Linked DNA regions of Homo sapiens: regions 1 and 3 are each linked to region 2. A link means that fine-mapping ties the variant in region 2 to the plasma level of a protein whose gene starts in the linked region. Region 2 holds a variant in brackets. A gene starts in each other region. All regions are shown on their reverse strands.

Region 1 (8,180 bases), not on the chromosome of region 2:
AATGCCGCAGTAAACATACGTGTGCATGTGCCTTTATAGCAGCATGATTTATAGTCCTTTGGGTATATACCCAGTAATGGGATGGCTGGGTCAAATGGTATTTCTAGTTCCAGATTCCTGAGGAATCGCCACACTGACTTCCACAATGGTTGAACTAGTTTACACTCCCACCAACAGTGTAAAAGTGTTCCTATTTCTCCACATCCTCTCCAGCACGTGTTGTTTCCTGACTTTTTAATGATTGCCATTCTAACTGGTGTGAGATGATATCTCATTGTGGTTTTGATTTGCATTTCTCTGATGGCCAGTGATGGTGAGCATTTTTTCATAAGCCTAAGTAAGTACCTTTACCAGTAAAATCTTCCAAACATTTAAGGAAGAAATAACATCAGTCGTACACAAACTCTTCACGAAAATAGAAAAAGAAGGAGCTTGCTTATGAGACCAATATAATTTTGTTACTAAAATTCATCAAGAAAGAAAATTGGTCCATCTTCCTCATGAACACAAATGCTAAAAAGCACAGCAAATTTATAAGTCAAATTCAAGAATATATAAAAAAGATAACACATCATGGCCAAGTTGGAATGCACAGTTGATTTTACATTTATAATCATCCATGTAATTCATCATATTAACAATAAAAGTAAATAATCATATGATCATATTAATAGAGGCAATAAAGGTATTTACTGAAACAGCATCCATTATTTAGGAAAAAAGGAAAATTTCTTAGCAAATTAGAAATATAAGGAAAGGTATTTAATCTGATACATAGTATTCACCAAAAAAAATTACAGAAAATATTATATTTAATATTGAAATATTAAGAGCTTTTTCTGTGAGACTAAGACAGGACACCTGATATTACCACTTCTCTTTAGTATCATGTTTGAGTTCCTAGTCAGTGCAATAAGTGAGAGAAAAGGAAGTTTAAGTATTAAAAATAATGAATAAAACTATCATTATATGATTGTGTTTGCATGAAATCTAAAATAACCTAAAGATAAACTATTAAAATTAATAAGTAAATTCCGCAATTTTAGTAGATATTAAAAGGTCAGTAAGGCCGGGCATGGTGGCTCACGCTTGTAATCCTAGCACTTTTGGAGGCCAAGGCGGGCAGATAACTTGAGGTCAGGAGTTTGAGACCAGCCTGGCCAACATGGTGAAACCTCATCTCTACTAAAAATACAAAAATTAGCTGGGCATGGTGGCAGACACCTATAATCCCAGCTACTTGGGACGCTAAGGCAGGAGAATCGCTTGAACCTGGGAGGTGGAGGTTGCAATGAGCCAAGATCGCACCAGTGCACTCCAGCCTGGGGGACAAGAGCAAAACTCTGTCTCAAAAAAATAAAAATAATGGTCAGTAAAACAAAAAAGTATTATATTTCTATATACCAATATACATTTAGAAAAAAATCTAATGATGTCACTTACAATATCATAAAAAACATATCAATAACCTAAGGATAAACCTACCAAAAGATATACTTTCCAGAGGCAAAGCTATAGAAAATTACTGAAAGAATGTCAAGTTAACCTAAATAAATGAGGGGATATTGTATGTTTATGGATTGGGAGACTAAATCTTTTCTAATTTATACAAATTAACTTATAAATCCAATGCAATCCCAGTTATTAAAAATCTACTAGGCTTTTGGGGAGAGAGGGGACAGGAATTGACAAGGTGATTTTTAAATGTATAGAAAAATTCAAAAAGCCAAAAATAGCCATAACAATTTTGAAGAAGAACAGCATTTTATGACTTAAACTATCAGTTAATAAGAGTTATTATAAAGCCACAATAATTAGAAGAGTGTGGTATTGGCATGAGGATAGACAAAATAGACTAATGGACAAGAAAGGAGTTTCCAAAAATAGACCTACATGGCTTTTTGTTTTATAACAAAGGTGAAATTGCACTGTACTGTGGAAAAAATCAACTTTCAATAAATAGGGCAGGATAAATTATCTGTATTTAAGTTAAAAGTGAATATAAACACTCAAACTGTACACAAAAATCAATTGCAATGCTCTTATAAATATAAAATAAATGGTAAAAAATAAAGTTTCTAGAAGATAACCTGGGAGAGTATCTTTATGATCTTGGAGTAGACTAACTTTCTTAGAAGGGATGCAAAAATCTCTAACCACAAAGGAGAAGACTGATAAACTGGACTATGTCAAAGTTAGAATGGTTGTTCATCAAAAGGCACTATCAATGAGCAAAGAAGCAAGCCACAGATTGAAGGAAGACATTTGCAATACATATATCCAACAAAAGGTTTATATTCAGGGTTTAAAATAACTACAAAACAGGAAAAGAAAGACTGAAAGTTAAGAGAAAAATGAGGAAATATTTGAACAGAGATTGCACATAAAAAGGATATCTACATCACCAATTAGACTATGAAAAAATGCTCATTCTCAAATTCACCAGAGACATACAAATTAAAACCACATTGAGATAATTCTAGCAGAACGGCCAGATTTTACTAGATGACAATACCAATATCAGCAAGAATTTTAGAACAATGATAACTCTCATACATTGGTTGGTGGGTGTGGTGGGAATTGGCACAACCACTTTGGAAAATAATTTGGTAATACTTCCTAAACTGAATATATGCATACCTTATGAGCCAGGACTTCCACTCCCAGATATATACCCAACAGAATTATGTGCGCATATGCCCCAATAAATGTATACAAGAATGTTCATAGCAGCACTATTTGTTTTAGCACCAAAAGTAGGTAAAGATTCTGTGTTCCCTTTGAAGTTCTCCTCTTAATCTCTATTCACCCCTGTAACCCCTGTATGGTTTTCTTGCCTCAGGGTGCAGTGGGTCAGATGTGACATAATATACCTAAGGTGATGTGCATTTGTAGATATAAAATTAAATGCCCCCTTAGGAAGACCAAGGTATGGGCCCAGAGAGAAAGGGTGAGAAAATATTTGAAAGAAAGAAACTGGCACTCCTCGTGGCAGCTAATGTCTTAGGAACCTCTGTTGACCAGTATACCAGGATGGAAACTTGACTTTTAGAAAATCATAAGAGCTATACATTCACCTGGTAATTTTTTAAAAAATCAAACGGTACAGAAATACATAAAATAAATTGTGTTCTTCCCACCTATTGCTCCTCAAACATAATCAATATTTTTGTGTGTACTTTCCAGGAAAAGAAGAAAGTATACTTAAAAGAGTTGATGTACACATATATCCTATTTTTTATATTTACCCAATGGGATAATACTACAAAACCAATCTATATCTCACTTTTATTCTCTTCACATCAAACAAGGTGGTCTTCCCTTCTTGGCATGTTCAGATTTACCTTATTCTTTAATGATTGCTTGTCACCATACGGATGAATCAGAATATTCTTAAACAGTCCCCATATCATGGTTTTTTGTTTTGTTTCCAGTGTTTAGGCAATAATGAATGCTACAATAAACGTTCTTATAGTACTCTCTTCAGATACTTCCTTCAGGGTAATTTCCCAATAGCAAAAATGTAGGGTCAAGGGTATTTGATTTTTTAAAACCTTAACTTTTTTTTTTCTTTGATCATCGGGTAGGAAACTGTGATTAGCAGCTGAAGACGGGTACTCCCACTTCCTTTTTTCAATTCACTAATGCATTCTGCTCTTTTTGAGAGCACAGCTTCTCAGATGTGCTCCTTGGAGCTGGTGTGCAGTGTCCTGACTGTAAGATCAAGTCCAAACCTGTTTTGGAATTGAGGAAACTTCTCTTTTGATCTCAGCCCTTGGTGGTCCAGGTCTTCATGCTGCTGTGGGTGATATTACTGGTCCTGGGTGAGTAAAAGGGCTCACCATGGGCCCTGGGTGGGATCGGGACAGCTTCTCTCTCCACCGCAGGCCTGGTCCTTTCTTGGGGCTCAGCCCCTGCTGAGAGACTCTCTCCTACATTAGGAGACTGTATTTTTGAACTTTACTCTGTAGCTCAGGGCTTTCTCTTGAGGCTGAAGAAAATGGCCACAGCTGGAAGGAATTTTCAATCTTACAGAGTAGGAAACCACAATAACCACAACAATTAAAATTTCATTTATTTTTTTCTTTAAAAAGTACTTCTTAAAGTCCAGAGAATGTTTCATGTTTGTTTGTTCATATTGTCTTACTCATAGAAGAGCCCACTCTCCTCTCTGCAGAGGAGATGTATTTATTCCTTGTATGACAAGGCCAGATCCTGGTCCCCAGCATAAGAGGCAAGGTTTCTAACGGGAAAGACAGGTCTTTCTCTTGTACATAATTGCAAACCACTGCAGCAATTGGCTGATTAAGAACATGGGGTGGAGGAGGTCGCAGAGGCGTAGGTGGACAAAGCAAGGATAAATCTAAAGCATATGACTTTCTCTTTGTCCCTGTGGGTGTACGTAAGTCTCTATCAACTCATATGTGCGAACTGGTTGATTTTTACTAAAGGTTAAATATTATAATTAAATATGTTTATTTATTTGTTCAGCAAATGTGTTTAGTAATATCTATGCACAGGTGCTGAGCAATTAGAGTCCATAGGAGACACTACGTCTATGTTCTGGAAAGTCATGACATAGAAGGGCTCCCAGCAAGGCCAATGTACTTTCAAGCAGCTATGCAACAAGCTCCCAGTTAAATAATTGTCCAGGCAAAGTTACCAATGAATGCTGTAGGCAGATAATAAACTGTATTCAAAATAGCTAGTAAAGACTTCATGAAACTTAGAGGTGAGTAGGAGCTAGAGGAGCAGAAATGGAGCAGGCGTGATATAAGAAAAGAGGACCTCACAGTTGGAAGGTGCATGGACTATAATTCCTGAAGTAGGAATACATCTCAGTGTGGCCCCACACAATGTGGGTAATGGCCAGGTCCTGAGCATGAGAGGGCAAAGTTTATAACATGGGCTCTGGGGTCAAACAGGATCTAGGTTCAAACTTCATCTTGCCACCTACTGGCTACCAGATTCCTGGTCTACAAAATGCAGTTAATCCTAGTGCTTACCTCACAGGATTATTGACATGGTTATATGAAATAACCTACGTAAATGCAGACCATATAGAAACCACTCACAAAAATATTAGCTTCATTTAAAACAATGCAAAGATGAAGGAAGCCAAAATATTCAGGTGAATGGTGAATAATTTGTTGTTCTCAGTAAAACACTTAAGTTTGGATAAGTCTCCAATAGCCTCATGTGGACAGGGATGATTTGTCTCTCACACACTCCTGGATTTCTATTGCCTTGCTCTGGAGTATGATTGGCATTCCAAAAATCTGTTGAATAAATAAATCAACCCATATGCAGAATACCTACTCAATTGATAAACCTGCCAGTTTTGTGTCCTCTCTCTCTTCATTACCCATTTCTCAAATCTCTATCCTTCTATTCCTATATTATTAACCTAGTTCTTTAATTAATTCATTATACAACACAAATATATTTAGTGAACATTAAAGGAATATCTTTTATATGCCATTCACCGTTATAGGTCCTGGAGGATATATGGTGAACATAAGGAAAGTCCTAGGTCTCATAGAGCTTGCATTATAGAGAAGGGAAAATAAACAAGCAGATAATGAAGATAATTTGGATAAATACTCTGACAAAAATTACACATTACCATCTCTTGGGCTGAGCATCAGGTCTAAATAATCTGAGCATCAGTTGATTGTTTAAAAATTAGGCATGATGATAATGAGCCCTTGGATTCAATGATCTCATGAAAAGAGTATAGCCTGGAGTCTGGTGCCCAAGGGAGGCTTAATTCATGTCCATTTCCTTGCCCTGCCTTCTAATCAGTCTCCCTGCTTCATATTGTCCCATTAAATTCTGTCCACTGACAGAGTGCTCCATCAAAGTCTGAAATTCTAACCTTGTCAATCTCCTCCTTGAAACCATTCCATGACTCCTTATCACTTTTATAATAAAATTAGAACCACTTACTCAGGCCCTGCATGCTTCTCTGGTCTTATTTCCCCCAACACTCCCAGTTCCTGAGCACCAATGTCATTTCTCCACTTCTGTGCCCTTTCTACCTTGAAAGGTAGAAATCGCCTCTTACCACACACAAATGCTAACATCCACCTGCAGACTCATGTTCTCACTCACAGTTTTGTGAAGTATCATCTCCTTCAGGTACCTTCAAGGATCCACCCATCCTGTTCAACACATGTACACACAAACACACACTCTACACACACACATATATCCTACACACTGGGCTAGTGGCCCTTCTGCCCCCAACATACCCCATGTGTATTTCTGTTATTGCACTTACACCCTGTGTTATATTATTTTAAATCGTGTTTCTGTTTTTCCACTAGTCAACTTCTTGATGGCAGATACCATTTTTAAAATTCATTGTAGAAGTCCAAATACCATGCCATATATATATGTATATATATGTATATTTATGTGTATATATATACATTTGATGAATAATTATTAGAGTTTTTAAATGAATTTTTTAAAGGGACAAGTAATACATGCATGGGTAAAAAAGGGAATTATCTTCTTAAAACAAAATAATCATGGTTCTGTGCTCATCTCTGGCTCTTATTTTTTTGCAGCTCCTGTCAGTGGACAGTTTGGTGAGTTCTCCTGTCTTTGGCTCTTCAGCGTCTCTGGTTAAGAGTGTCTCTTCCTAATAAATAGAAAACATTTGTGATGGCTGCCTGAGATCTCCAATATCTCCTGTTTTCTTTCCTTTTTTTTATTATACTTTAAGTTTTAGGGTACATGTGCACAACGTGCAGGTTTGTTATATATGTATACATGTGCCATGTTGGTGCGCTGCACCCACTAACTCGTCATTTAACATTAGGTATATCTCCTAATGCTATCCCTCCCCCCTCCCCCCACCCCACAACAGGCCCTGGAGTGTGATGTTCCCCTTCCTGTGTCCAAGTGTTCTCATTGTTCAATTCCCACCTATGAGTGAGAACATGCGGTGTTTGGTTTTTTGTCCTTGCAATAGTTTGCTGAGAATGACAGTTTCCAGCTTCATCCATGTCCCTACAAAGGACATGAACTCATCATTTTTTATGGCTGCATAGTATTCCATGGTGTATATGTGCCACATTTCCTTGATCCAGTCTATCATTGTTGGACATTTGGGTTGGTTCCAAGTCTTTGCTACTGTGAATAGTGCCGCAGTAAACATACGTGTGCATGTGCCTTTATAGCAGCATGATTTGTAGTCCATTGGTTATATACCTGGTAATGGGATGGCTGGGTCAAATGGTATTTCTGCTTCTAGATCCCTGAGGAATCGCCACACTGACTTCCACAATGGTTGAACTAGTTTACACTCCCACCAACAGTGTAAAAGTGTTCCTATTTCTCCACATCCTCTCCAGCACCTGTTGTTTCCTGACTTTTTAATAATTGCCATTCTAACTGGTGTGATATGGTATCTCATTGTGGTTTTGATTTGCATTTCTCTGATGGCCAGTGATGATGAGCATTTTCTCATGTGTCTTTTGGCTGCATAAATGTCTTCTTTTGAGAAGTGTCTGTTCATATCCTTCACCCACTTTTTGATGGGGTTGTTTGAATTTTTCTTGTAAATTTGTTTGAGTTCATTGTAGATTCTGGATATTAGCCCTTTGTCAAATGAGTAGATTGCAAAACTTTTCTCCCATTCTGTAGGTTGCCTGTTCACTCTGATGGTAGTTTCTTTTGCTGTGCAGAAGTTCTTTAGTTTAATTAGATCCCATTTGTCAATTTTGGCTTTTGTTGCCATTGCTTTTGGTGTTTTAGACATGAAGTCCTTGCCCATGCCTATGTCCTGAATGGTATTGCCTAGGTTTTCTTAAAGACTTAAATGTTAGACCTAAAACAATATCTCCTGTTTTCTTGCTGAGGTCAGCAGGGATTTCAAAGTGATGCCTGGTTTTTTGGCATCGTCCAAGGGCCAGGATAGCTTCATGGTCACCCTCTGACCCTCCCTGGGGGAAGGGGTGAATGCCCAAGCAGCTCCCAGCCTTTGCTAAGCCCTGCATTTACTATTATTGCCAACAGACCCCATTTAGCCAGGCAGGACATCTTCAACTCCATGGCAAGTATATTGACTCAGGATAGGATCCTCTCAATCAGCGAGCCAGAAAAATACCCTGAAAATATCCCACTGTGCTGATGCCAGCAGGAATGCTGCATTCTCTACACTTTGGAGT
Region 2 (8,172 bases):
GAGGGTCGGGGGACAGGGAGGCGTCTGGCTGGCACTGTGGTCCCTGACCCAGGATCTGGCCCAAACCCTCCACCTGACTTGAGTCGGGGTTTGGGAGGTGGGGGCCAACGAAGACGCTCCCGCCTGGGACTTGAGTAAGCTGGGGGTATGCCGGGTCCAGGAGGCTCAGGCCCCCAGGACCCGGTCCCTTGTATAGTCTCTTTCATCTTCCAGTACCCTGAAAAACAAAAGATCAGGGTATCAAAATCTAAGCATCACCCCACCGCAGATCCTGCCTCTCTTCCTGGCCATGCCTCCTCTGGATTCAGATGCAAATAAAGAAAAGAGGAAAAAACGCAAAACTCCTAACTTAAGATCTTCCCGGTTAACGCGGTCCACAAGGGGCCCTTCAGGGTCTGTGCCATCATCTCTCCCCAGTCCAGAGACAAGGGAAAATGGCTAAGCAGCAGGCCTCAGAGATCTTATTTCTAAGATCACCAGGCCAAACCCAATAGCACTGCCAGGTTCTACGTCTTTATTTTAATACCACCAGGGCTGTCCTTTGAGGGCCCAACAAGGGCAGTTTCTTTCCTCAGGGACATGATAACCGTGGTACTTGAGGAGAATGCAACTTGCACGTGGAAACTGGACTGGAATGGGAGACAGTTCTCTAACACCCTGGATGAACGGGGGGCATGGGAAGGCTGCGGTCATCTCAAGTGCAGATGCCAGGGATATGGTTCAGGGGGCAGAGGCTGATAAACGGGGAAGAACTTTGAAGGAAACTTAAAGAGAACCGAATCAAGACGCTGGGACAGAACGGAGCGCACAAGCCAGGCCGGCCCAGCCCCCTCCTACTTCATCCTCGGGGACCAGAATGCAACCCGGCACCAGTCCGGTCCCACGAGCTTGGATGGCTCGGCGCACACGGGCCTTAAGAAGCCCCTATGCGGGCCTCTGGGCCCCGGTTCGGTGGGAGCGAGGCCCAGGAATGGGAGAGGCCAAGGCAGGGCTGGGGGGAGGGGAGGGGGCGTCCTCACCGGGAGCGGGGAAGCCGGGCGGACGGGCCCGAAGGCGGGCGTCTCCGGCCTCAAGCTTCCCGGCTCATCTCTCCGGCGACGGCGGCGGCCCCGCCACTCCTGCTGTCTTTAGGCGCAGCCGTCTCAATTCAGGATTCCAACGCTTCTGGGCCGCGTGCCGCGCCGCCGAGCACCCCGCCGCGCCGCCTCTGGCTCTGCTTCAGCTTCAGCTTCCACCTCCACCTCCACCTCCGCCACCGCCGCCACCAGCGCCACCGCCGCCGCCGCCACTCCTCCCCCCCTCCTCCTTCCCCTCCCGCGAGCCCCGGGCCCACCGGCAGCGGTGGCGCACGATTAGTACGTCACACCCGGCGAAGAGCGCCGGCGCGGCCACCAAGCGCGCGGTCCCGTCTACCCGAGGACGCCGGCGCCACGGGACTGGCCAGCCCAGAGCGCTACGCGAGGCTGCGCCTGCGCACATCCGCCGCCCGGCCGCGCGTGGCGGCCCCGCCACTTTCCCTTTTGCGCCGCGCTCTGTCTTCTCCGCGCTCGCGGGCCTGACCCTAGCGGCATCCCCAGTACCTTGATCCGGCGGGGGGCGCGCCACAGGAGAGCCAGGAGGGCGGGAGATCCCCGTACGAGGACCGGGCTGAGGCGAGGCAGTGGGGGAAATGGAGCCGGGGTATCATTCATTCTATTTTATTTAACTTTAAGCAGGGCTTGATCAGAAAGAAGAGCTCAGAGGAGTGAGGCAACACCAACACCAGGGCGTACGATACACCCGAGGCTCCTCCGACACCAGTTCCAGCCCGGAAGGGCTTGGAATGGCCTGCCACGCCGGGGCAATGGAGCGCGTGAAAGCCAAACCTTGGGACCCGAAGAGTAATTTGACTGCGAAGGCACCGTCATCGTCGGGCACCCCCTGTAGACGGGCGCATAATAGCTACATCTCTGGAGATAGTGATGGAAACTGGGGTCCGATAGATGGAGAGAAGGACGTAGGATAAGGCTTCTTGTGGGGTGAAGAGGCAGAGGGCACCTGGAGAGAGGTGTGGCATGGAGAACCAGGGGTTTTCCCTAGCAGAGGGCGGCTTCGTGGACTTCGGCCAACCGGCGGGTGCTTCCCTCGAGCGGCCGCTAGATGGTGGTGCTGTTCTGGATGCTTCCAGTGGGCCCCGACCAGGTCTGGACAATGCCTGGCGCCCGTCCCCCGCCCCTCATCTACACACACGCAAGAATTCGGAGCTCCATGGGGAACAGAAGCAAGATATCCGTAAAATCAAAGTCTAGGGGGTGGGAATGAAAAGGGAAAAGTGAGGAACGGGGAGCCAAACCCAGGAAGACGCCTCTGTTCCTGCACATTCCCTCTCCTTTATATACTCAGCTCTTGGCTGTCTCCAGTATGTACCCACCCTGGTCTTCCAAGCTGGGAGCCACTTTTTATAACACAATCACAGTTTCACAAACCCCAGGAAGGTTCCATGTGGAGAGAGGTTAAGTTTCGCCCTTGCCCGGGGAATTATGACACTCAGAATATCCCCTTGGTGTAAATGGAAGACACCTGAGAAAAGAGAGAAAGTAGATTCGCAGTGAAGCACAGCCATCCAGATGCCCTGTTTCCCCCTGCCTTCTCCAGCTCCACCGTTCCTCTGCCTCCTGTAAGGACCCGGCATTCTGCACTTCACTCCTCAGACCCGCCTCTGTTTAGGTTTCCAACCTCCCTCCTAGCGGTAGCTCCCTGCACTGCTACCCCCGGTCAGAGACGTCCTGCTTTCGGCTGCCCACACGGCTCTCACCTGCGCTATAGCAGCTGTTGTAGGCCCGGTCCGGGTGGGAGGGCATACTTCTTATACATCGGAATAGAGTCTCCTGCCTTCCTTGGCCTTCTCGAGACACCACCTGACCCATGGTGAAAGTCACGTCTTGAAACAGGACCTGGCAGGGAAGGGAGATGTTGAAGAAAACAGGATGGCCTGGCTCAGTTCTGGGAGGCCTCAGGAGCGCTAACGAGGGAAGAAAGAAGGGTCTGCTGGGTTTGGTATGAATAGAGGGGTCAGGAACCCTCAGTAGGGGGCCAAAGAGGCCCTCTGTGAAGCTCAGAGTGTGGCTGGGGTTACCTGGCTATACAGCAGATAAACTCCAGCATCCTGGATTCGGACACCATATCCTTGGGCCTGTAGGCCTCTCCCACGCCTAAGAGCTGGTTGCCACATCACCTCTGTCACATCGGAGTCATCTGGAGGTGAGAGTGTGTCGGTCAGGACTTCTTGGCACTCTCAGGTGCTTTTTGGTTCTTTCCCTTTCACCTATAAGGACCCCTTGAGCCCAAGTGCCAGCCCGAGTTCCTGGTTATTGCCCCTCCCCAAAGCCATTATTTAAAATAGTGCTCACCCTTGGAGGTGGCGTTAATGGGAACCAGGTGCAGGACAGAGTGCTGCTCTGAGGAGAGAAGGAGGGAATCTCAGCCGCATCCACTTTCCCCCGTTGTGCTGTTGGCAGCCTCCACCCTCACCCTGACTCGGGCTTACAATCCCCACGCTGCTTGATCACCTCCCACCCCTGCTGCACCCTGGAAGCCTCACTCTTCTGTTTTTGGGTGAGCACTGCTCTCCTTTTCCGGGATCTCTCCCCATTCTCCCAGGCTTCCAGGGCATCGGAACTCTGCTCATGGAAAGAGGGTCAAGGTTAGGTTAAGATGCGAGGGTCCCAGCCAGCCTGCCTTCCCAGCCCTCCCCTGCCCCCGAGATGCCTCAGATCTCTCACGCACCTTTTCCCAGCACCCTGAGTGTTGGTGCTGGCTGCCCTCCAGGATTTGTTAGGTATGAGAAGCATTAACCTTTAACAGTTTCCTTTCCTGGAATGGCCGCGCCCCTGACTTCCAAACCGGAGACCCTCTCTTGCACCCCCTTGAAACTTTGCAGACCAGGAGGCCCAGAGACCCCCCATGCTAACCATCCTCTCCCAGACACCCTCCTCCCCTCACTCACCTGCTCCGGGAGACTCTGCCAGGGATACCCTTCCCCATTCTGGGAGGGGCCTCCTGTCCCCTGCAGCCGGCTCACCTCTCTCCTGAGGCTCTGCAGCTCTGTTTGTTGGGTCAGCAGAGCCATGGCACAAGCCACGGCCCCCAGAGCTGCCCCCCAACTCAACCAGAGGGCAACTGAGAGTGCCGGCTCTCTGACTGGGCCCCCCATGTTGCCTGGAGGCCCTTTGGGGGCTAGCAAGAAAGGAGATGAGGCTGGCATGAGCTGGGGACCCTGCCAACAGCTGTGGTTTCAAGAGTGGGGTAGCAAGGAGGTGGCGGGGCGGGTAAGGGTACGGGCAGTGGTGCAGAAGGGAAGAAGGTTGTTA[C/T]GCAAGGAGAAATAAAAAGGAACTTGAAAATAAAAAGGAGGGAGGAGGAAAGCAAGCTAAGGGTACTGTTAGTGCTCCTGGCACTCCGTCGTGGGGCCAGCGTTGCCTTGAGACCCTCCACCCTCCCTCAGCCTCAGGAGAATTAGGTTCCAGTCCCTCTAGGAAGGACAGGGCTGCCAGTGACACCCAGGAGGAACAGGCAGTGCGCAGGAACCCTGGGGCGGCCCCAGGGTTGGGGGAGGGAAGGTTGGCTGGCTAGAGGGCATTGTGCCAGGAGCAGGATGGGGGGCCAAGCTGGGCAGTGTCCAGGGTCAGGGCGAGGGTGGAAGACCCTCGGGGTCAAGCACAGCAGAGATCGCTGGGGCAGTTCACTAGGGGTGACTGAAGGTGGGAAAGGAGGGGTGGGCTCGATGGGGAGGAGAACCAGGGGCACGGAAGCAAGAAACTGGCTGAGTTCTGGGGTTAAGGCTGGGCCGGGTGTGTTGGAATAAGGCCTGCACTACTCCCTGTGCTGAAATTGGCAAGCAGGACTTCCTGTTTCCCGAGAAAAGCTCTTACATAAGGCTCTGGACGAAGAGACAAAGCAGCGGCCTCAAGCCCCCCGGCCACTGCGGGATTCCTCCCCAGCACACAGGGTTCCGGGTTCCCGTGTGCCTGCTGACTCTCAGCCCCTCCTCCAGGCTGGCTCCTGCCCGCCCCACCTCCCAGCCAGGGCCTGTGCCAGCACCTGCTGAATGTCCGAGGCCACCAAGAGGAAGGGCCCCTGCTCCTCCCAGCCAGGAAGGGATTTCCCCGCAGGAGGAAGTCTGCCTCCTAGGCCAAGGAGGCCGCTTCTGCTGTACCTTGGGCGGAGGATTGATTTTTTTCCTGGGCAGTGTGCCTTCCTACCTCTGCTCCCACCTGGGGGCTGGAGGCATGGAGGTCCCCGCCCCCAAGCCTGAACATCATCCCGGAGTTCCAGCTGTGCCGCTCCGCAACGCCCCCCTTCACGTGGCCCCCAGCTACCCTGAGAGTGTCCCCTGAGCCCCAATAAAGAGAGAGACTATGACTTATTCTATTTAATATCCATTTATCAACATTTTGTCACAATAATAATAAAAATAATATCTGTTTTAAAAATCCACAGGGAATTCTCAAGGGAGGAGCTTGTCTTGTTTCTCGCCCCTCACATTTGGGAACTCCTGGCCTAGGCCCAGTCTCTTTGGCTTCCTGCCGCCAGGTCCAGCCCCTCTTAGTGCCTGAAGTGGGGTCTTCTGGACCCATCCTTGCCCACAGAGTACAGTGAACACAATGCCCTGGGGGTCTGTGGCCAGGGGGGAGTCGAGATCACTGGGGGCCTCAAAGGGTCAGGGATTGGGGAGCTAGTGAGGTGGAGAGTGGGCGGTGGGGGAGTTGTAAGATAAGAGTGGGAATACTGTATTTATGTGGGATGGAAAACACGTGAACAGGCCCAGGCAGCCTCTAGAGGGAGGGGCAGGTCTGGAGCAAAGAGCGGCTGAGGGTGGGGCAGAGGGGACCGGGTGCCCAGAGAGCTGTCGAGGGGAGCCGGCAGCCTGGGACGACTGCGGGGAGACCAGGGCCCCTCAGTGAACCTGGAAGAGTCCGAAGTAGGTGAGGAAGGGGGCAGCCTTGAGATGGGCCCAGGGGAGGGTGCGGATCCGCAGGGAGGACCCTGGCCGCAGGGCCAACAGCCCAGACACCTGGCAGAGGCGGAGCTGGGGCCCGAGGGAACTCGCCGCAGTGGCTGAGAATTCCTCCAGGCAGCGCAGGGCCAGCACACCATCCACCAGCAAGTCCAGCTTCAGGTAGACAGCCTTCCCCTCATCAAAGTGCACCTGGGGTGGGGACAACAGGCCGAGTCCAGGCCTCTGCCTGCCCTCGCCTCAATTTCCAATTTCCTCAGCGACGCAGGCATCCCATCCCACCCAAACCCCAACTCACCCTCCCAGCCCTGTAGCTTGTCCCCCACTCTCCTGGCAAACCCTTCGCCACTCTCTTACTGCGTTACCCATGCAGCCAGATGGGGCTTACCTGACAGTACAGGTAGTAGAGCCCAGCCCGGGTGACTATAAACTCCCCGATCTGGCGGTTGTAGCGCAGAGGGCTGGAGCTGTTGATTCTGGCTTCCTCCCAGCCACTCACTGTCCCGTCCACACCTGAACACGGATGCTCAGAGATAAGGAAACGTCTCTCTACAGGACTCCCCCACACTCCCCAGGGATCCATTGAGCATATGAACATTCGGCGCCCACTTTACCCAGAAGACACATAGATCACCCCGGGCAAGGGAGGACCCATCCCCTATGATGCCCATAGTTGACTAGGAAGTTATGTGAAAAAATCTAATGTATATGGCCAGAGACATTCAGGGCAGATTGTCACCTGCAGTCACTTCTGGGGAGAAGAGTAGAACTGAAGGAGAAGCGTGAGGGGATTTAATGTTTTACTTCATGGATATCTATATTATTTGCTTCTTTTATATGGAGGATGTAAACATACATTATCTGAATTAGTACAACTAAAAATAATAAAATGAAACCCAATTGTCCATCAACAAAATGTCTATCCATATAATGGAATATTATTTGGCCATAAAAAGAGTGAAGTACTGATACACACTATGGCACAGATGTGCCTTGAAAACATCATGCTCAGCCAGGTGCAGTGGCTCACGCCTGTCATCCCGGCATTTTGAGAGGCCAAGGTGGGCGGATCACCTGAGGTCGGGAGTTCGAGACCAGCCTGGCCAACAAGGTGAAACCCCGTCTCTACTAAAAATACAAAAACTAGCAGGGCATGGTGGCAGGCACCTGTAATCCTAGCTACATGGGAGGCTGAGGCAGGAGAATTACTTGAACCTGGGATGGGGAGGTTGCAGTGAACCAAGATCATGCCACTGCACTCCAGCCTGGGCAACAGAGCTAGACTCTGTCTCCAAAAAAAAAAAAAAACAAAAAAAACGCTCACTGGGCATTTTTATTTCCACCAATGGGTTCCCACAACCTGTGCTCTGCAGAGTCTCCAGCCCTGAAGTTTCCTTCCCTTCCTTACCCTGCCAACTGCACCATCTGAACAGCAATAGCCCCTCAAACTCATCTCAACCAACACTGAGCTGACCCCCCTCATCCCACTCTTGCTTTACTGTCTGTTTTCCACATTTGGCTTCTGGTTTTGCCACCAGGGGGATATTCAAGCCTCCCTCTCCTTTACCTACATCATTAATCGATCACCAGTTCCTATCTATCCTGCCTCCTAAATAGCTCTCTCCCCTCTCTCCCCCATCTGGTGCCTCTGTCTGGTTTTCACAGCATTCCCTGTTTCCATTCTGGCTTCCTCCAGTTTATTCCCTACACAAAGCCACAGAATGAGTCTCTAAGATGCAGACGTAAGCCCGCCTCGCCTCGCCTTCCTCCTTCCGATGGCTCACCTCAGAATAGTTCCCACATGCCACCGTGTGGCCTGGCTTCTGTCTCCAGCCTCATCCCCATCTCGCTCCTCTAGCACTTTCTGCTTCTGCCACGCTGAACTTAGAGTCCCCCAGCCTCATCATGCTCTGGGCAAACCCGGGGCTTTTGCCCCAGGGGCTGCTTCTGCTTGCACCCACCATTCTTGACCCCTTGCCTGTCTTGTCTTACGCTCCTGCTTCAAGGCCCAGCGGCACCTTGCGATGCAGGGAGAGAATCCCTGACTCCACAGCCATGTCTGTCTTCCCCTGTGTTGCCAGGTATCTTGGCCACTTTTATTATTGTTCTTGTCATATTCCACTGTAATTACAAATTTTTTTTTGAGATGGAGTCTCACTCTTGTCACCCAGGCTGGAGTG
Region 3 (8,167 bases), not on the chromosome of region 2:
TGAGAGGGTCTTACTGCTTAATCTCTGTCCATCATGTCTTAGACCTACAGACAACTTGAGTTCAATGATTATGATGCCCCTCACCTCAGGGATCTGTTTCCATCCAGCTTCCAAAGATGGGCATACACCAGCACAAGCATAGAAAAATAACAAATCTGTATATTGGACCCTCTGCTTAGCAGTGAGAAAGCAGGTTTGAAGACAATAAAGCCAGGCCTGTATGTGGAGATTGGCACCATGACCCTGGATTATGTTTTATGGGATATGCCTCCAAGGGCAACTCTGCATTTATCCCATGGCCTCTGGCTTCCAAATTTTCTAGGCACTTCCCTCTGGGGTAAAGGAATCAAAATTGGCTTATTTCCCTTGCAAACCATCCTTGGCGACTAAGTACTGCCTTGTCTTCTACTGAGAGATGGCCATATTTTTGGCACCTGCCTTTCCTTGTGGGAGGTGTTTCCTCTGTTTACATAGCAAAGGGGCTGTAGGAGAGACAGACGGAGCTGGACTTACAGCAGAACCAAGTCATGATAGCCTGTTTCTATTTTGTTTTCAGCATTTTTCCGCCAGTTCTGGCCACCTCCTTTCCTCTGGAACATGCTGATTTCAGCAAGTCCAGCTCTGTCAGCTCTGCCCCCCGAGTCTATTGGTTTCTGATCATCTGATAATGCTTTGCCTGCACTCAGGACCTGTCTTTGTCCCTCCTCTTAACATACTTGCAGCTAAAACTAAATATTGCTGCTTGGGGACCTCCTTCTAGCCTTAAATTTCAGCTCATCACCTTCACCTGCCTTGGTCATGGCTCTGCTATTCTCCTTGATCCTTGGTGAGTATCTCTGCACCTGTTGGTTTAGGCTTCAGAGTTTTCTGGCACTTTGATTAGGAGAACTTTCTCCCCGCCAACCTGGAACAGATTTAGATGTTTTTCAAGGATGAGCTTCTTCCTCCTTTTTACATTTGGTAACTATTCTAATCCTTAAAAAGCCGCTTAATCCATACACATTTGTAATTCACTTTAACAGATTTTTTTCTATTTTCTTATATTTGTAATGACAGAGTCATGATAGTTTATCCCATTTCTCTTTTTACATAAGTGTTCCTAAATGTACTATTAGTAAGAAGACAAATGAATGGGCACCGGGCAGCAGCAAGTAGAGCCAGGAAAGGAAGTAGAACTGCAAGACAATCACCTTTCATTGATCATATTGTCTGGTTTCCTCTGAAAAGTGTTTCATATAATGTTTTTCTAGTTTTCTTCAGTTTCTCATTGCTTAGAGTAATCTAGAGATTAACCTAGTTAATCTGGTGATTGTGGAGCCAAGGAGACCTGGATTTCAATCCTGCCGTTTTGATTTCTTAGCGGTGTGAATTCGTAGGTTACCATACCTCTCTGAAATTTTGCTCTCTCATCTATGAAGTGAGGATAATATTATGTTCCTCAGAGGTTTTTAGGAGTATTTTTTTTTATAAGATAACTAATATAAAGCATCTAACAATGCCTGGTAAATCCCTATGCTAATCAATCACATCCACTTTTATGTCTTGATGATCTAGTACATCACCAAAGCCCACACAATCCTCTCAACTGGACACTTTTGTGTTCAATGTAAGGTACTGACCACATCTTAAACATCCATGCATCCCCCACATCACTCAACGGCTAGTCCTGCCCCTCATGGATATACTACTGGGTCTTCCAGGCTCATGTGCACTTCCACCTGCTTCATGAAGCCTTTCTGGCCTGTGCCTTCTGCAGTTACCCACCCTACTGCAGAGCTTCCAAGTCACTTACTGGCTATATCACGTTTGCACCTGCATATCAGGCTTGCCATGCTCACTTTCCTTCACATGTACACATGTTGGGTTGGGGTTATGCAATGATTCCCATATGTATAATATAACCTTGAGTTTTGGATAGTTGCAGAAAAGGCCTCATTGAGCCTGAGAGTGGCCACATTCTGAAGATTAAGGGAATGAGGGTAATGAGAGGTTATTTGGAAACCAAGAAAAGAAAATATTCCAGGATAAACCACTGAACTACTTGAATCTGCCTGAAAAACTGTAGGCTGGAGGTCCAAAGATATTTGCACCTTCTGAAAAATCCTATAAGATGGGGGTGGTGGGTGTTTTGCAGTTGAAAATGCATAGGCCTCAGGGACTCCTGGAGGTTACAGGGCCCAGGACTCTCTACAGCATTAGGAGGGACCTTATGGAGAAAGGAGTCCAAATATACAGAGATCCTGCAGGAAGAAACCCCCATGTTTTAAAGACAGGCTGGTGCTGGAATCTGGAGGTTTGGAACTACATATAGAGCTACTTCCTGAGCTATTCATCTAAATCAGCTAAAACAGCCTGCAAGCTGATAATGAGGTTTGTATTTTTAAATGGTAGGAAAAAAGCAAAAGAGAAATACTATTTTATGACACATGAAAATGACAAAAAATTTAAATTTCAGTGTCTAATAAAGGTTTAATGGAACATAGCCGTCCTCACTTGCATACATATATGTGGCTGTTCTCAGGCTACAATGGCAGAGCTGAGTGGTTGCAACAGACACTGTATGGCCCACAAAACTGAAAATATTACTGTCTGGCCTCTTACAGTAAGAGTTTGCTTACCTGGTCTAAATGCTGTGCCGATGAACACAGGCATATCCTGCCCCTTTGCCCTAATTTCTGCTCTGCCCACCATGGCATCTTTACCTCCACCGGCCAGTGCATCTTCCCAGTGGCCTCCAGCACTCTTTCCTGTTGAGCCAAGAGGCTGTATCACCACACTTTTCTTCAGGCAGTAACAACCAATCAATCTAATTGACTAGAATAGAAAACCAATCTATCCACCATCACGTGTGAAGAAAGCAGGCTGAACCAGTTAGCTGTGGTGGAATTGGTCTCTGTGATTCCTAGCCAGTGTCCCTGTGTCCTTGGAGGATGGTCATCCCAGAAGAAGAAGGTCCCAACAGGACTGACATTGGAGGCTCTGCATCTACCACTCTTGTCTCACACAGTTCTGTGAAGGCCTTCTAGAGTTGTGTTCTTTGAATAAAGCCTTGGAAATTGACCTCACTCATTTCCTTCTTTCTTCCCCAGCCATTTGCACCAGACCTGGATTCCTAGGTAAGATTTTTGGGGGTTTCTGAGAGGGAGGCCTCAAGCTTAGGAGAGGGAAAATTTTGAAGCTTCTTGAGCCACAGAGAAAGACTTGTTCAAAACAGGCCCAGCAGACTTCCTTTCTGGCTTCCTACCTCACCCACTCAGTCTTGTGTGGGCAGATTTCCACCTCCAGAATTTAGAAGGGTTTGGGTGGTTTATCCTGGCAGGGGGTACCTCTCCCCACTTGGTTTCTGTGGCCACTTGGCCAGCATCCAAGTAAGAGCTGGGTTCATTTCAGGTCTAGAATGCACTTCACTGCCTTATGGGCATACCTGAAAAATGAACTTCCTTTTGGTTTCTTCCTGTTGGTTTCCAGCATATCCAGGTCCCCCTGCCAGGCTTAATGGTGTCTTTGTTTGAATTAGAAATGCATTGTTGCTTGCAGCACATAGCTTGACCAGCAGAGCATAGGCTGGATTTCCTGCTCGGGGAGTCTTTGGGTAATGCACAAATGATAAACCCAAGGAAAGGGTGCACAGAGAGAATGAGTTTATAGAAGAGGGAGGCTATGGGTTGTGGATTATCAGTTTCTTGTATATTATCCTTCCAGTCTCCCCTTCTGCTTGATCATAGAGACTTTACCAGAGAGGGGCAGCCAGAAACATTGCTATTGGTGTGGAGAATCCTATACCCTGATAGATGCAACCTTCCTGGGTTCTCATCTTGACATTCAGATTAGCCCTTCTGTTTCCTCAAGCTGAATTTCTTGTTTTTAAAAAAGTAATTTTTTTTTATTTATTTCTTCTTTCCCTGAATTTCTTGTTTACTTATTTTTTGTTTTTTATTTTTTATTTATTTCTTCTTTCCCATGGCTATTTTAGTCTTCTACCCCATAGAAAATGAAAATTGATTAAAAATTGAGAATTTTGCAATCAGCAAGGAAAGAAAATATCCTGTTAATCCTGATAGCTAGTATTTCTTGGAGTATGCAATAATGCCAATCCAAACTCTAATGTCAGATACAATGACCCCCAAATTATTTACGGTTCATGCTACTCATGAAGATAAAAACGTTTCTGGATAACTGCTCTTACATTATATTTTTACCCAGATCTATAAGCCTTAAACTCAGTTGTGTGAAAATGAAAACTTTTCTTAGTTTTTTACGGTTTATATAAAAGCCCTATTTTTTATGGTTAACTTTTAATTGCTATCTCTAGCCTCCATTTTTATATTTTTTCCCAAAAAAATTTAAGCAAAGGAAAGAAACTAAAAAACAAATGCATGAAATAAACATAAGCTTCCTGATGCAGTTTAAAATTAGCCAGATTAGGCCAGGCGTGGTGGCTCACACCTGTAATCCCAGCACTTTGGGAGGCGAAGGCGGGCAGGTCACGAGGTCAGGAGATTGAGACCATCCTGGCTAACACAGTGAAATCCCGTCTCTACTAAAAATACAAAAAAATTAGCCAGGTGTGGTGGCTGGCGCCTGTAATCCCAGCTACTTGGGAGGCTGAGGCAGGAGAATGGTGTGAACCCAGGAGGCGAAGCTTGCAGTGAGCCGAAATCGTGCCACTGCACTCCAGCCTGGGCGACAGAGTGAGACTCTGTCTCAAAAAAAAAAAAAAAAAAAAAATAGCTAGATTAGAGTTTTCTCACTGAACTACTTCTCTTGGACTGATTCTAAACTCTGGGGACTTTGTGTGCAGTTGTGACAAGTTAGTCTGTGGGAAATCTGGTCCTCAGCAGTCACGTTCTATCCATGCATGCAACCTGGGTCATCCCATGTGGCCCATGTTGGCCCCTATTAAGCTGTTCATCTTCCAATAGGCCATAGACTTCCAGTCCAAACGTGGCCTCTCCTGGTGCACAAGAACTCTCTCAGCTAACCGTCTCTCTCCATGTAAGCATGGCAAATTCAGCCTCTGCTATATTGCTCTGAGGCTGCAGGAGGCTTGGTGGGATTGCCAAGCTTAATATAAGCTTCTTGAGGGCAGAACTCATCACTGTTCTCTGAGTTCACTAACTAACAAACAAACAAAACAGAAATGTAGTACGCACCTAACAAATGTTTGCTGTCTAATAGGCTCTTCCCTGGTCTCCCTACACAGCCATCTCCACTCTCCTTGCATGTCTTGGTGGAAGGAAGAAAATTTCTGTTAGTCTTTTCTTTTTTTCTCTTTTTTTGAGATGGAGTCTTGCTCTGTTGCCCAGGCTGGAGTGCAGTGGCATGATCTCGGCTCACTACAACCTCCAAATCCTGAGTTTGAGCGATTTCTGGCTAATATTTGTATTCATTTATTTATTTTCTTTAGTAGAGACAGGTTTTCACCATGTGGTCCAGGCTGGTCTTAAACTCTTGACCTCAAGAAATTCACTTGCCTCAGCCTCCCAAAGTGCTAAGATTACAGGCATGAGCCATCACACCCCACCTCTGTTAGCTTTTGTACTTCCAGAGTTCTAGTCATGAAACTGAATCAAGTCCTAGATTTCTCACAACTTATCTGGAGACTCCATGAATCCTCTCTTATGCTTCTAGTCCCTGGAATTAGACCAAACTCTTGGGGCTCTGAGACTCTGACTCTTCCCTTTCCCTATGCTCTGTATTTCTCCTGAGATGGGCGCTTGAACAAGGAACAATTTCATAGGAAGCAGCAAGTATGGGCATGGATTGGCCACTGAGAGTGAGAGATAGTTAGGCTGTTCAGCCCGAATTGTACACACTCTGCCTCAATCTGACTTCCATGGAGAGAGACAGAGTCATGAAGAGGAAAAACGCAACAGATATTCTCTTTACACCTCTGTTCTGGCCTGGAGCTTCCACTTTTGGACAATGTAGCCATAGGACCATAACTTTCATGAGGATGATTTTCCTCATCTGTGAAATAATGGGGTGGACTTTATGATCTCTTTAGGGCCTTCTGATTCTGACCGCCAGAGAATCTAAAACTCTGCTGGATCTTCAACCAACCTCTTTTCCTTAATCTTCAATCTGAAAATGCCAGCAGTCATGTCCAGGTATCTTGAAGTAGAGTTTCTTGACAGGGTACCATTAAGGCTGTAGCAGAACCAGAACTCAGACACGGAGTTCTGAAGCTCCTCTTCCTTCCCTTTTCTTCTGATCCCTTATTTCTAGTTCCCCAACACTCTGCACCATTTGAATGGTGGAAGAGTCCCAGATTGACTGAGTACATGCCTAAGGACCCTCTGAGCTCCTCTCAGGCCTCTAGCTAACAACCCGTCTCTTTGCAGCGTCTCCATCTGGAGTGCGGCTGGTGGGGGGCCTCCACCGCTGTGAAGGGCGGGTGGAGGTGGAACAGAAAGGCCAGTGGGGCACCGTGTGTGATGACGGCTGGGACATTAAGGACGTGGCTGTGTTGTGCCGGGAGCTGGGCTGTGGAGCTGCCAGCGGAACCCCTAGTGGTATTTTGTATGAGCCACCAGCAGAAAAAGAGCAAAAGGTCCTCATCCAATCAGTCAGTTGCACAGGAACAGAAGATACATTGGCTCAGTGTGAGCAAGAAGAAGTTTATGATTGTTCACATGATGAAGATGCTGGGGCATCGTGTGAGAGTGAGTATGGCAGGGGTCCCGGACCACTTGCCAGCTGCCATACCCCTCACGGCCACTCTTGTTGGTCTTCATTCCCTACCATAGACGTTCACACAATGGCTAATTGGCCCCTCACCCCCCACATCTCATACTTTCCCAACTGTCAGTGCTGGAGATAAACAATATCCTCACCTAGAACTGCAATTCCTACTTGGTTGAGCAAATGCTTTCATCTTAGTTTCAATCTATATGAGAACTTGTTTCTCTTATTTACACACATGCCAACATGCACACCACTAAACATTTGTTGAATAGAGTATACTGTATCTGGAGCTGGGCATGGAGTTATGGGGGAAGAAATGAGCTCACAAAGTATAATGTATGCTTTTTAAAAAATAGTTTCAGTTTTCCAGGAGTTTATCTTCTAATCAGGTAGAAAGGAGATACTCATAGGAAACTAACACAATCTAATAGACAGGTGGATAGATGATAGAAAGATACATAGACAAACGGATCTGTGCTCCTTTACTTCCCCCCACATACTTGCTTTATATGTATGAGTAGTCTCTTCTCTTTTGTTCATTAGACAGCGATGTGATTGAGGAGCTAGTCCATGGCTCCTCTTTGTCTGCCCACAGAATTTGTTTCTAGGGAAACAGTCACTTTTTGCCTTGACATTGAAGACTCAGTCCTATTTTTTAGAAAGATTGAGGGTTGGGAGCACTAATCTGAGATATTTAGTTCATAACGCCAACAATGAACCAAAAAGCATTTGGTGTTGGATATATCTTGTATGTTATTGTATTTATTTTTAAAAGTCTATACAAGATCTCTTGTGAGGATCAAATGACAAGTTGAACATGAAAACAATTTGAAAAATTAAAATGCTACAGAAATGATAATGATTCAGCTTTGAATTTGGAAGTTACATTTTCTTCATTGATTCCCTCATTCATTCTTTCAGCAGGCATCTATGAGGCAGTGTTAAGCACTTTAGCATGCCTTGTACTGAACACCAAGAACTGTGAGATGTGTCCATTGGGCCGCCTTTACTGAGAAGACCATGTTCTGGCAGAGAACAGACACGCTCTCTTTCTTTCCCCTCAGACCCAGAGAGCTCTTTCTCCCCAGTCCCAGAGGGTGTCAGGCTGGCTGACGGCCCTGGGCATTGCAAGGGACGCGTGGAAGTGAAGCACCAGAACCAGTGGTATACCGTGTGCCAGACAGGCTGGAGCCTCCGGGCCGCAAAGGTGGTGTGCCGGCAGCTGGGATGTGGGAGGGCTGTACTGACTCAAAAACGCTGCAACAAGCATGCCTATGGCCGAAAACCCATCTGGCTGAGCCAGATGTCATGCTCAGGACGAGAAGCAACCCTTCAGGATTGCCCTTCTGGGCCTTGGGGGAAGAACACCTGCAACCATGATGAAGACACGTGGGTCGAATGTGAAGGTAATGCCTGTGCGTCCAAAGACTAGGTTTATTCATGGATTTAATTATGTGGAATCTCATTCAAACAGTATTTA

Alleles and levels. Alleles are on the strand shown, and positions count from the first base shown. The strength of an association depends on the size of the effect and on how common the allele is.
For the plasma level of the protein whose gene starts at base 3,641 in region 1, allele T in region 2 goes with a lower level than allele C (weak association).
In carriers of allele T in region 2, the plasma level of the protein whose gene starts at base 692 in region 3 tends to be lower than with C alone (weak association).

What was found. A credible set is the group of variants that fine-mapping cannot tell apart. PIP is the posterior inclusion probability: the model's chance that the variant is causal. Protein levels are from antibody-based Olink assays in UK Biobank. Linkage for the fine-mapping came from a reference panel and not from the study's own genotypes, which makes the PIPs less certain.
Region 1: it holds the start of FCRL5, and the variant in region 2 is the best candidate, but not a certain one, in a credible set for the plasma level of the FCRL5 protein (UK Biobank, PIP 0.54).
Region 3: it holds the start of CD5L, and the variant in region 2 is the best candidate, but not a certain one, in a credible set for the plasma level of the CD5L protein (UK Biobank, PIP 0.81).

Annotation. Positions count from the first base shown.
Region 1 is chr1:157,547,976-157,556,155 of GRCh38, reverse strand. It overlaps FCRL5 (Fc receptor like 5), which reads left to right and starts at 3,641. Exons shown (of 17, transcript NM_031281.3): 1 at 3,641-3,824; 2 at 6,576-6,596. The coding sequence starts at 3,794.
Region 2 is chr17:7,555,111-7,563,282 of GRCh38, reverse strand. TNFSF12-TNFSF13 (TNFSF12-TNFSF13 readthrough) reads right to left here. Exons shown (of 11, transcript NM_172089.4): 6 at 6,381-6,505; 7 at 3,581-3,659; 8 at 3,390-3,437; 9 at 3,116-3,234; 10 at 2,795-2,933; 11 at 1,682-2,559. The coding sequence ends at 2,450. It overlaps TNFSF12 (TNF superfamily member 12), which reads right to left. Exons shown (of 7, transcript NM_003809.3): 6 at 6,381-6,505; 7 at 5,402-6,184. The coding sequence ends at 5,933. TNFSF13 (TNF superfamily member 13) reads right to left here and starts at 4,533. Exons shown (of 6, transcript NM_003808.4): 1 at 3,986-4,533; 2 at 3,581-3,659; 3 at 3,390-3,437; 4 at 3,116-3,234; 5 at 2,795-2,933; 6 at 1,682-2,559. The coding sequence starts at 4,243. The coding sequence ends at 2,450. SENP3 (SUMO specific peptidase 3) reads right to left here and starts at 1,364. Exons shown (of 11, transcript NM_015670.6): 1 at 1,020-1,364; 2 at 1-217. The coding sequence starts at 206. It also overlaps SENP3-EIF4A1. RefSeq lists enhancers at 1-594, 1,861-2,110, 4,485-4,534, 5,345-5,404, 4,990-5,783 and 1 more and a silencer at 1,221-1,300. The variant C/T (reference allele first, on the strand shown) is at 4,350.
Region 3 is chr1:157,834,333-157,842,499 of GRCh38, reverse strand. It overlaps CD5L (CD5 molecule like), which reads left to right and starts at 692. Exons shown (of 6, transcript NM_005894.3): 1 at 692-826; 2 at 3,090-3,116; 3 at 6,345-6,665; 4 at 7,752-8,093. The coding sequence starts at 799.